Linked DNA regions of Homo sapiens. The protein of the gene in region 1 purifies or fractionates together with the protein of each later gene. This does not show direct contact. Each region holds a gene or a part of one and is shown in the gene's direction. Other genes may lie near its edges.

What was found. Proteins that work in one complex are often made in the same cells at the same time.
Region 2: the proteins of ZNF280A (region 1) and UPF3B purify together in Homo sapiens (affinity purification with mass spectrometry; one large-scale study listed by BioGRID and IntAct). This does not show direct contact.

Annotation. Positions count from the first base shown.
Region 1 is NC_000022.11:22,511,910-22,518,117, reverse strand, and holds the end of ZNF280A (zinc finger protein 280A), read left to right. Parts: intron 1-242; exon of another isoform or gene 243-338; intron 339-2,416; 5' UTR 2,417-2,487; coding exon 2,488-4,116; 3' UTR 4,117-4,382; downstream 4,383-6,208. UniProt on the Homo sapiens protein: May function as a transcription factor.
Region 2 is NC_000023.11:119,845,164-119,850,204, reverse strand, and holds part of UPF3B (regulator of nonsense transcripts 3B), read left to right. Parts: intron 1-4,908; coding exon 4,909-5,007; intron 5,008-5,041. UniProt on the Homo sapiens protein: Involved in nonsense-mediated decay (NMD) of mRNAs containing premature stop codons by associating with the nuclear exon junction complex (EJC) and serving as link between the EJC core and NMD machinery.

The DNA of each region.
Region 1 (6,208 bases):
CCGTCTCTACTAAAAATACAAAAAATTAGCCGGGCGAGGTGGCGGGCGCCTGTAGTCCCAGCTACGCGGGAGACTGAGGCAGGAGAATGGCGTGAACCCCGCGGGGCGGAGCCTGCAGTGAGCCGAGATCGCACCACTGCACTCCAGCCTGGGCGACAGAGCGAGACTCCATCTCAAAAAAAAAAAAAAAAAGATGCCATCAATTATAAAAGATACATTACTCTCCTTTTTTTTTTTTTTTACATCAGATGTTAAACATGCTGATATAACAAGGTTTGAGGGAAGCACATCTCACATGAGTGAAAACCCAAGCATCACGCTTATCCTCACAAAAGGATCTGAGATATGTCATTTTTGATTCCACTATGAAATAAAAATATATACTGCAAAAACAAATTATGAAATGTATTTTATATTGATGAGATGCTATGATGAGATGCAATCTGATTTAGAGATGTTAAAATGGAAATCTAAGCCTATACCTTAGAATCAATAAAATATGGCATAGAAGGTATCAGAGCCTATCCCTTGTGGTAAGGTGAAGGTATTAGAGTATTTGACAAAACTTTTGTTTCAATTTACACACACATACACACAGGTTTACCTTCTCCCTTGTACAACAGTATTAAATCATTTGGATTTGGATTTCATTAAATGCTTAGAGAATCTGGAATAATGGATTAGAGCCTCTGGTACACCTAAATGATCATATTAATAACAGCTACTATTTATTTAACAAAGATTTAGCATGCACAGTATGACAGACATTGCTCTATAAGCTGAGGAGTAAATGAAACACAACTCCCTGCCCTCGTGTGGCATACAGTTTAGTGGGTAAACACAGAAAAGAAACAAGTTATATTTTTAAATTTTTTGTAGAGATGGGTCTTGCTATGTTGCCCAGGCTGGTCTCGAGCTCCTGACCTCAAGCAATCCTTCCGCCTTGGCCTTACAAAGTGTTGGGATTACAGGTACGAGCCACTGCACCTGTCCCATTTTTTGTTGTTGTTTTAAGACACAGAGTCTTCCTTTCCTCTGTCACCCAGGCTGGATGCAGTGACATGATATATCTCACTGTAATCTCAAACTCCTGGGCTTGCAAGATATATTTTACATATTGTGTGGTAGGCAGTGATAAATGCTAAGTTGAAAAATAACATTGAGGGTTTGAACATATGAGTTAAGGAGGTTGTGATTTTTGATATTGTGGTCAGGTAAGCCTTGCTGAAGAGGAACCATGGGACTGAGGCAGACCAGGAGCCCAGATGGGGTTAATCTGGGGAAAGAGGCACGCAACGTCCGGGAACAACAAAAGTTCTGAAAAAGAAAAAGGCCTGCTGTGTTCCAGATTCACGGAGCTCAGGATGGCTGCATCAGAGCAACAGAGGAGTTAGCAAGGGCGATGATGACCTAAGGTTCCATGGGGAAATTTAAAGTTTGCTGGTATTTCCTATGAATGAAATGGAAAGTCATTGAAGACTTAAGAGCGAAATATACTTGCTCCCCTGTATATTTTAACAGGGGCATTGGGGCCACCATGGGGAGATCTGACAAAACTTTTAAGACTGGCAACTTCTGCAGTGATCCAGGGAGAGAACATGGTACCTTCCATCAGGGAGGTGGCAGTAGATGTGGAAGAGAGTAGTCAGATTCTGGATATCTTTAAAAGATAGAGCAGACTAGCTTTGCTAATTGATTGGCTGTAGTGTATGAGAGAAAGTCTGGCAAAGGATGACTCTGAAGTTTGTAGACTGAGCAACTGAGTTTACTGAGAAAAGGAACATTACAGGAACAGCAAAGGGTGTGTGTGTGTGTGTGTGCTGTGATTTGTGTGTGTGTGTGTTTGTGTGATGGGGTCTCATTTGGTTGCCCAGGCTGGAGTGCAGTGGCATGAACATAGCTTTGAAGTCCTGGGCTCAAGTGTTCCTCTTGGCTCAGCCTCCCAAGTAGCTGGGACCACAGGTGTGTACCACCATGCCAAGCTAATTTTTTTTAATTTTTAAATTTTTTTGTAGAGATGGGGTCTTGCTATGTTGCCCAGGCTAGGAGCAGAATGTTTTTGAGAGAAGTTTTGTTCAAGTTGGTTAGAAACCTTAGACATCTGAGAGAGTACCTGTGGGATGAGGAGGAGGTGAGTGAGGCATCTAGAGTGCAAAATTTAGAGGCAAGCACTCTGAGATGTTCCATCTGCACCTCCTGAAATCTTGCTTCCTTTGCCTCACAACTGCAGAAGACCAGGGGAGGAGAGACAGGTAAATTTGAAATTATTATGCCATTTAAAATGTTTCAAGCCTCATTTCTGACGTGTAAAATAGAGATGTTGATGGTTATCTCAGTGTTTTAAGGGAGGATACAATAAAGTAATGATTTTGTCTTTCGAAATAAATATTGACTATTGTCACATGGTTGCACTTAGGTGGCAATTTGTAAAAAGACAGCTCTGGAAGTTGAAGAGACCAGTGGCTTCAAGCAAAAAGTAAATTGAAAATGGGAGATATCTTTTTGTGTAAGAAAGTGGAATCACCAAAGAAGAATTTGAGAGAATCCAAACAAAGGGAGGAGGATGATGAAGATCCAGATCTGATCTATGTTGGGGTGGAGCATGTACATAGAGATGCTGAAGTTCTCTTTGTCGGGATGATTTCAAATTCAAAACCAGTCGTTTCAAACATTTTGAACAGAGTCACCCCAGGCTCAAATTCAAGAAGAAAGAAAGGCCACTTCCGTCAATATCCTGCTCACGTGTCGCAGCCTGCAAATCATGTGACCTCTATGGCAAAAGCCATCATGCCGGTTTCTCTGTCTGAGGGGCGATCGACAGATAGTCCTGTCACTATGAAGTCTTCATCTGAACCTGGTTATAAAATGAGCTCACCACAAGTTGTTTCTCCCAGTTCCTCAGACTCGCTCCCCCCAGGGACTCAGTGTCTAGTTGGAGCTATGGTCTCTGGAGGAGGCAGAAATGAGAGTTCTCCTGATTCAAAGCGACTTTCCACTTCAGATATAAACAGCAGAGATTCCAAAAGGGTTAAACTCAGGGATGGAATCCCAGGGGTACCTTCTTTAGCTGTGGTCCCTTCAGATATGTCTTCTACAATAAGCACAAATACACCCTCACAGGGGATCTGCAACTCATCAAACCATGTTCAGAATGGAGTAACATTTCCTTGGCCTGATGCTAATGGAAAGGCACATTTCAATCTTACAGATCCAGAGAGAGCAAGTGAGTCTGCCCTGGCAATGACAGACATTTCAAGTCTAGCAAGTCAAAACAAGACCTTTGATCCCAAGAAAGAAAATCCCATCGTGTTACTTAGCGACTTTTACTATGGACAGCATAAAGGAGATGGGCAGCCGGAACAGAAGACTCACACCACCTTTAAATGCCTCAGCTGCGTGAAAGTTCTAAAAAATATTAAGTTTATGAATCACATGAAGCATCATTTGGAATTTGAGAAGCAGAGGAACGACAGCTGGGAAGACCACACCACCTGCCAGCACTGCCACCGGCAGTTTCCCACTCCCTTCCAGCTACAGTGTCACATTGATAGTGTACACATCGCCATGGGGCCCTCTGCTGTCTGTAAAATCTGTGAATTGTCATTTGAAACAGATCAGGTCCTCTTACAACACATGAAGGACCATCATAAGCCTGGCGAAATGCCTTATGTGTGCCAGGTTTGCCATTACAGATCGTCGGTCTTTGCTGATGTGGAAACACATTTTAGAACGTGCCATGAAAACACAAAGAATTTGCTTTGTCTGTTTTGTCTCAAACTTTTCAAAACTGCAATACCATACATGAATCATTGTTGGAGGCACAGCAGAAGGAGGGTCCTTCAGTGTTCCAAGTGCCGGCTACAGTTTTTGACGTTGAAGGAGGAAATAGAGCACAAAACCAAGGACCATCAAACATTTAAAAAGCCGGAGCAACTGCAAGGGTTGCCTAGTGAAACAAAAGTTATTATTCAAACTTCAGTTCAGCCAGGATCAAGTGGTATGGCTTCCGTTATTGTTAGCAACACTGACCCTCAGTCTTCTCCTGTAAAAACTAAAAAGAAGACGGCTATGAACACTAGAGATTCCAGACTCCCTTGCAGCAAGGATTCTAGCTGAAAATATGTTCGACTGACTTCCAGGAGTTCCGAAAGGCAGAAGTGAGGCTAGGCCATATGTGCATTGTGGCTGTAGATGCTAGCAAGCAATGTCATCAACTGTCAGGTTGTTTTTTACAGTGACATCTCATCAGCTCCCTATTGTCAAGAAGTAGCTCCAAAGTCTTTGAGCCCTTTCCCAGTCAAATGCTCCCAACAGGGCATCCCTTATTCTGACCTCAGAGGTTTTTCTTGTTCATGAACTTTAAATAAATGGAATCACACAAAGATTCTTGTCTTTGGCTTTTTAAAATAAGTGAGATGGCTGGGTGTGATGGCTCATGCCTGTAATCCCAGCACTTTGGGAGACTGAGGTGGGTGGATCACTTGGGGTCAGAAGTTTGAGACCAGGCTGGCCAACATAGTGAAACCCCTTCTCTGCATAAAATAGAAAAATTAGCCAAGCGTGGTGGTGGGCGCCTGTAGTCCCAGCTACTCGGGAGGCTGAGGCAGGAGAATCGCTTGAACCTGGGAGGGGGGAGTTTGCACTGAGCTGAGATCGCGCCACTGCCCTCCAGCCTGGGTGACAGAGCATGACTGTCTCAAAATAAAGTAAAATGAAATAAAATAAGTGAGATGCATTTTTGCTGTGTGTAGCAGTAGCACATTCTTTTTCATTGCTGGGTAGAATTTTGTTGAGTGACTGTGGCAGTTTTGTATAAATTTATTTCACTGTTGATGGACTTTGAGGCTGATTCTTTGGCAATTTTGAATAAAGCTGCTATGAGCTTGTGCGTGTCTTTTGGTAAGCATGTAATCATTTCTCGTGGGTATATATAGCTATGAGAAGTGCTGGAACTGCATATATTTAGCTGTCTAGTGTAGATACTGCCAAATACATTTCCAGAGTGATTGAAACGATTTACATTCCCACCACCGATACTGCGAATTCCATTGCTACTGATCCAGCACTTGGTACTGTCAGTCCTTTTAGTAAGTGCCCTTCTCTTGAAATTGTAGTGGTACCTTATTGTGGCTTTAATTTGCACTTCCCTGATGATTAATGGACCTTGAGATTATATAGTTATCGGCCACGTGAGTATTTCTTTTTATTAAATGTCTATTCAAGTTTTGCCCCCTCCTACCTTTTTAAAAACTGGGCTGTCGACTGGGAAGGGTGCTGGGGCACTGGAAATGTCCCATATTTGGATCTAAATCGTGGTTTTATGGTTTATCTTTCATGAGTCTTATTTAAGAAATTGTCTACAAACGACATAAAGATATTCCTTCTATGTTCTAGAAGCTTTACTGTTTTGATGAGACATCTCAAACTGATTTTTTGTTAATGGTGTGATAAGGCATGAAGACTAATTTTTTCATATACATACCCAAAATCAATCAGCACCACTTACTAAAAAGACCACTCCTTCCCTACTGTATTGCCGTGGAAACTGTGAATCAGGTATGATTGTATATATGTGTTTCTGGAATCTATTTCATTTCATTTGTCCTGTTCTCTATCCTTGTGCTAATGCTGCAGTATCTTAATTATTGTAGCTTTGCATAATCCTCCGTGTGGTAGTTTCATTTCTCCAACTTTGGTGTTCAAAATTGCCTTGGCTATTCCAAATGCTTTGCGAATTGAAGTGGCTTTCATGGGTGTGCTTTTCTTGGTCTCAAACTCAGGTAGAATAGTTTACTTTAATTGTGATGTTAGCTGTGGGGCTCTTTGTAGTTACCCACTGAGTACACGGGAATCAACTTACAAATCAGTAACAGAAAGATCACTGAAAAAAAACCCAAAGTTCCTAAATTAGGCAATACATTTCTAAACAGGGCTGGGACTAGGGTGAGGCAAGCAGGGAACCTAAGGTGACAATATGCCATACCTGAAGCTGGGCGTGGGTCTCTCCTTAATGTGCCTCAGCCTCCTTGCTTATCTCACCCCAGTCCTGGTCCTCATTCTGAATAACCCATAGCTCCTCTAAGAAATTGCAGTGAAAAAAGGAAAATGTTGAACTGAAAGATATTGAAAACAGCCACAAAATTTATGGGATGGAACTAAAGCATTTCATGGGAATTTATATTTCTAAATGCATATATTTGGGAAGAAG
Region 2 (5,041 bases), on another chromosome or scaffold:
ACCTCAGCCTCCTGAGTAGCTGGGACTACAGATGTATGTCACCATGCCTGGCTAATTTTCTTTAAATTTTTTATAGAGATGGGGTCTCACTACGTTGCCCAGGCTGGTCTTGAACTCCTGGGCTCAAGTGATTTCCCCCCCCCCACCTCAGCCTCCCAAAGTGCTGGGATTACAGGTGCGAGCCACCATACCCAGCTCAACACCACTTATTAAAGAGACTATCCTTTCCTCATTGTGTTTTTTGTTTGTTTGTTTGTTTTGTTTTGTTTTTAAATCTTAGAGACAAGGTCTGCTTATGTTGCCCAGGCTGGATTTTATTGTTTTTTTTTAATATCTTGTTCACCTAGCCTTAAACAGTCACACTTTATGTCCTCATCACTTAATGCCTAGACAACCACTGTCTCTAAACTTACAGGATTTTCCATTTTTTTCATTCTTGTATAATTCAGTCTATTATATTGCCATGAAATTAATCTTTTTGAAAATAATGATTTAAATTAACAGTTGGGGGAAAAAGTCCAAACTCCTTAGCCTGGTAGTCAGGGTCCTCCATATTCTGGCCTCACTTCTGTTTCTTCAGCCTGTCTTCCACAATTTCCCTCTGTTTCAGTCTGGTTTATCTATTCCTTCTCAAATATATCACAGTTTTGTTTTTTGGTTTTTATTTTTGTTTTTTTTCTTTTTCTTCTCTCTCTCTCTCTTTTTTTTTTTGAGACAGAGTCTTAACTCTGTCGCCCAGGCTGGAGTACAGTGGCACAATCTTGGCTCATTACAACCTCCGCCTCCTGGGTTCAAGCAATTCTCGTTCCTCAGCCTGCCGACTTAGCTGGGATTACAGGTGTGTGCCGCCACGCCCAGCTAATTTTTGTAATTTTAGGAGATGGGGTTTCACCATGTTGGCCAGGCTGGTCTCAAACTCCTGGCCTCAAGCAATCCACCCGCCTCAGCCTCCCAAAGTGCTGGGATTACAGGCGTGAGCCACCATGCCTGGCCTAATATATCACAGTTTTGAAGCTAATCTGATTCTCTACTCACTGGGATTCCCAACATAATTTTTCCTCCATGACTGCTTTGCAGTGCCTTCTGGTCAATTCTGTTTATTTTTATTTTTCTGCTTATGTCTACATGCCAATGATTTAAGGATAGGATACCTTGTTTTTGACATTCTGTGACAGGGTGCTTGTGAATTTTTTTCCCATTAGTCACTTGGGGTTTTTGTATTGAAATATAACTCACCTATAATAAAATTCATCCTCTTAAAGCGTACAATTCAGTGGTTTCTGGTATATTCACAAGGTAGTACAACCATCAGTACTAATTCCAGAATGTTTTCATCCCTCCAAAAAGAAACCCATATCTATTAGTAGTTACCTCCCATTCTCTCCCTCCAGCCCCTGGCAACCACTAATCTACTTTATGTATCTATGATTTCCCTCCATTTCATATAAATGTAATCATACAATATGTGGTCTTTTCTGACTGGCTTCTTTTACCTAGCACAATGTTTTCAAGGTCCATCCATGTTGTAACATATAACATATATCATTACCTCATTCCTTTTGCATTTTTAAAAATTGTAAAAATACACGTAACATAAAATTTACCATCTTAACCATTTTAAGTGTACAGTTCAGTAGCATTAAGGTATATTCACACTGTTGTGCAACAATCTTGGGAACTTTTTCATCTTGAAAAACTGAAACTCTTTACCCATTAAACAACTCCTTATTTCCCTTCCTCCAGCCCCTGGCAACCACCATTATACCTTGTGTCTGTATGAGTTTCACTACTGTAGGTACCACATATAGGTGGAAACATACAGTGTCTGTCTGGCTTATTTCATTTAGCATAATATCTTCAAGGTGTATCCATGTCGTAGCATGTGTCAGAATTTTCATCTTTTTTTTTTTTTTTTTTTTTTTTGAGATGGAGTCTCACTTTGTTGCCCAGGCTGGAATGCAGTGGCGCGATCTCAGCTCACTGCAACCTCCGCTTCCTGGGTTCAAGCAATTCTCCAGCCTCAGCCTCCCAAGTAGCTGGGATTACAGGTACCCACCACCACAGCTGGCTAATTTTTTTGTACTTTTGGTAAAGATGGGGTTTCACTGTGTTGGCCAGGCTAGTTTCAAACTCCTGACCTGAAGTGACATGCCTGCCTCAGCCTCCCAAAATGCTAGGAATTACAGGCATGAGCCACTGCCCCCAGCCTCATTTTTAAGACTAATATTCCAGTATATGTATATACCACATTTTGTGTATCCATTCATCTGTCAAGGGGTATTCGAGTTGCTTCCACTCTTGGCTATTGTGAACAATATTGTTATGAACACAGATGTGCACATATTCGAGTCCTTGTTCTCACTGCTTTTGGATATATACCGAGAAATGGAATTTCTGGAGTCATTTGGTAATTCTATTTTTATTTTATTATTTATTTATTTTGAGACAGAGTCTCTGTCACACAGGCTGGAGTGCAGTGGCATGATCTTGGCTCACTGCAACCTCCACCTCCCAGGTGCAAGCAATTCTCCTGCCTCAGCCTCCCAAGTATCTGGGATTACAGACACCTGCCACCACACCCTGCTAATTTTTTATGTTTGTGGTAGAGACGGAGTTTCACCATGTTGGCCAGGCTGGTCTCAAACTCCTGACCTCAAGTGATGCGCCCACCTCGGCCTCTCAAAGTGCTGAGGTTACAGGTGTGAGCCACTGTGCCCCGCCGGTAGTTCTTTTTTGTTTTGTTTTGTTTTTTTGAGATGGAATTTCGCCCTCATTGCCCAGGCTGGAGTAAGTACAATGGCGCGATCTTCCCTCATTGCAACCTCCACCTCCTGGGTTCAAGCAATTCTCCTGCCTCAGCCTCCTGAGTAGCTGGGATTACAGGTGCCCACCACCACACCCAGCTAATTTTTGTATTTTTAGTAGAGATGGGGTTTTACCATGTTAGTCAGGCTGGCCCAATAATTCTATTTTTAATGTTTTATGGAACTGCCATACTGTTTTCCATGCAGCTGCATCATTTTACATTCCCACCAATACATGAGTGTTCCAGTTTCTCCACATCTTTGCCAACACTTGTTATTTTCTGCTTTTTGATAGTAGTCCTCCTAATAGGCGTGAGATGATACCTCATTGTGGTTTTGATTTGCATTTCCCTAATGACTAGTAATGTGGAACATATTTCCATATGCTTGTTAGCCATTTGTATATTATCTTTGAAGAAATGTCTATTCAAGTCTTTTGACCATTTTTTAAATTGGGTTATTTGGTTTTTTGTTGTTGAGTTATAGGAGTTCTTTATATATTCTCGATATTACCCCTTATCAGATAATATAATTTGCAAATATTTCTCCCATTCCATGGGTTGCCTTTTCACTCTGTTGATTGTGTCTTTTGATGCATAGAAGTTTCTAATTTTGACGTAGTCCAATTTATCTATTTTTTACTTTTTTTAAATAAGAGATATACTTTATATTTTTGTTTTATTGTGGTAAGAACACTTAACATGAGATCTACCCTCTGTATTTTTACTTTTGTTGCCTGTGCTTTTGGTGTCCTGGTGTATTTTTTTTTAAGTGTTAACAGATTTTTCCCCAGCTTTATTGAGCTATAATTGACAAATAAAATAATATATATTTAAATTTTACTATGTAATAATTGTTTTTTCTTTTTTCTTTTTCTTTTTTTTTTTTTTTTTTTACCAGGCTCGAGTGCAGTGGCACAATCTCAGCTTACTGCAACCTCCGCCTCCCAGGTTCAAGTGATTCTCCTGCCTCAGTCTCCCAAGTAGCTGGGATTACAGGCGTGCACTATCACGCCTGGCTAATTTTTGTATTTTTATTTATTTTTATTTTTATGTATTTATTTTTTTGAGACGGAGTCTTACTCTGTCGCCCAGGCTGGAGTGCAGTGGCATGATCTCGGCTCACTGCAATCTCTGCCTCCTGGGTTCAAGTGATTCTCATGCCTCAGCCTCCAGAGTAGCTGGGATTGCAGGCACGTGCCACCACGCCCAGCTAATTTTTGTATTTTTAGTAGAGACAGTGTTTCACCATGTTGGCCAGGCAGGTCTCAAACTTCTGACCTCAGGTGATCCTCTCATCTCGGCCTCCCAAAATGCTGGGATTATAGGCATAAGCCACGGTGCCCAGCCCAACGTGATAATTTTATATATGTATACATTATGAAATGTATACATTATGAAATGTATACATATTGTATACATATATACATTATGAAATGTATACATAATGTATACATATATACATTATGAAATATATACAATCAAGTTAACACATTCATCACCTCACATAACACATCACCTCAAATAGTTACACTTTTAAAAAATAACAGCTTTATTGAGATATAATTCACATGCCTGAAATAGTCACCCTTTTAAAGTATACAGTTCAGTGAATTTTAGTATATTCATAGGCTTATGAGCCTATCACCACAATCTAAATTTAGAACATGTTCATCACCCCTAAGAGAAACCCCACCCATTAGTTGTCACTCCTCATTCTTCTCACCACTTCTACCCCAAACTCCAGGCAGCTACTACTCTACGTTCTGTCTCTATAGATTTGCCTATTTTGGAGATTTCTAACATTTTAAAATGAAAAATAGTTTGTAGGGTCTTTTTCACATTAAAATATCACATTTTATAAGTTGAATTTATATGAATATTTTACTTTCATGCCGTGTTGTTTCACTATGTTATCAGTGTGAATTTGTGGCTCCTTTTGTAGTATGTTGATTATGGTTGTGCCAGTGTGCTTTATGCCTTTGGGAGACCCTCTTCAGATGACTGCCATCAAAAGAGTCATAGAAAGCAATGGGTTGATTCCCTTATATCCACTTTTGACATTTTCTTTGTTATAGCAAGTGTGGTATTTTTTTTCTAAACAGGTCAGGAATATCCCGCTATAGTAGAATTTGCACCTTTTCAAAAAGCTGCAAAAAAGAAGACTAAGAAAAGAGATACCAAAGTCGGGACTATCGATGATGGTACAGTATAGCTCTAATTATATAATGCTATTGC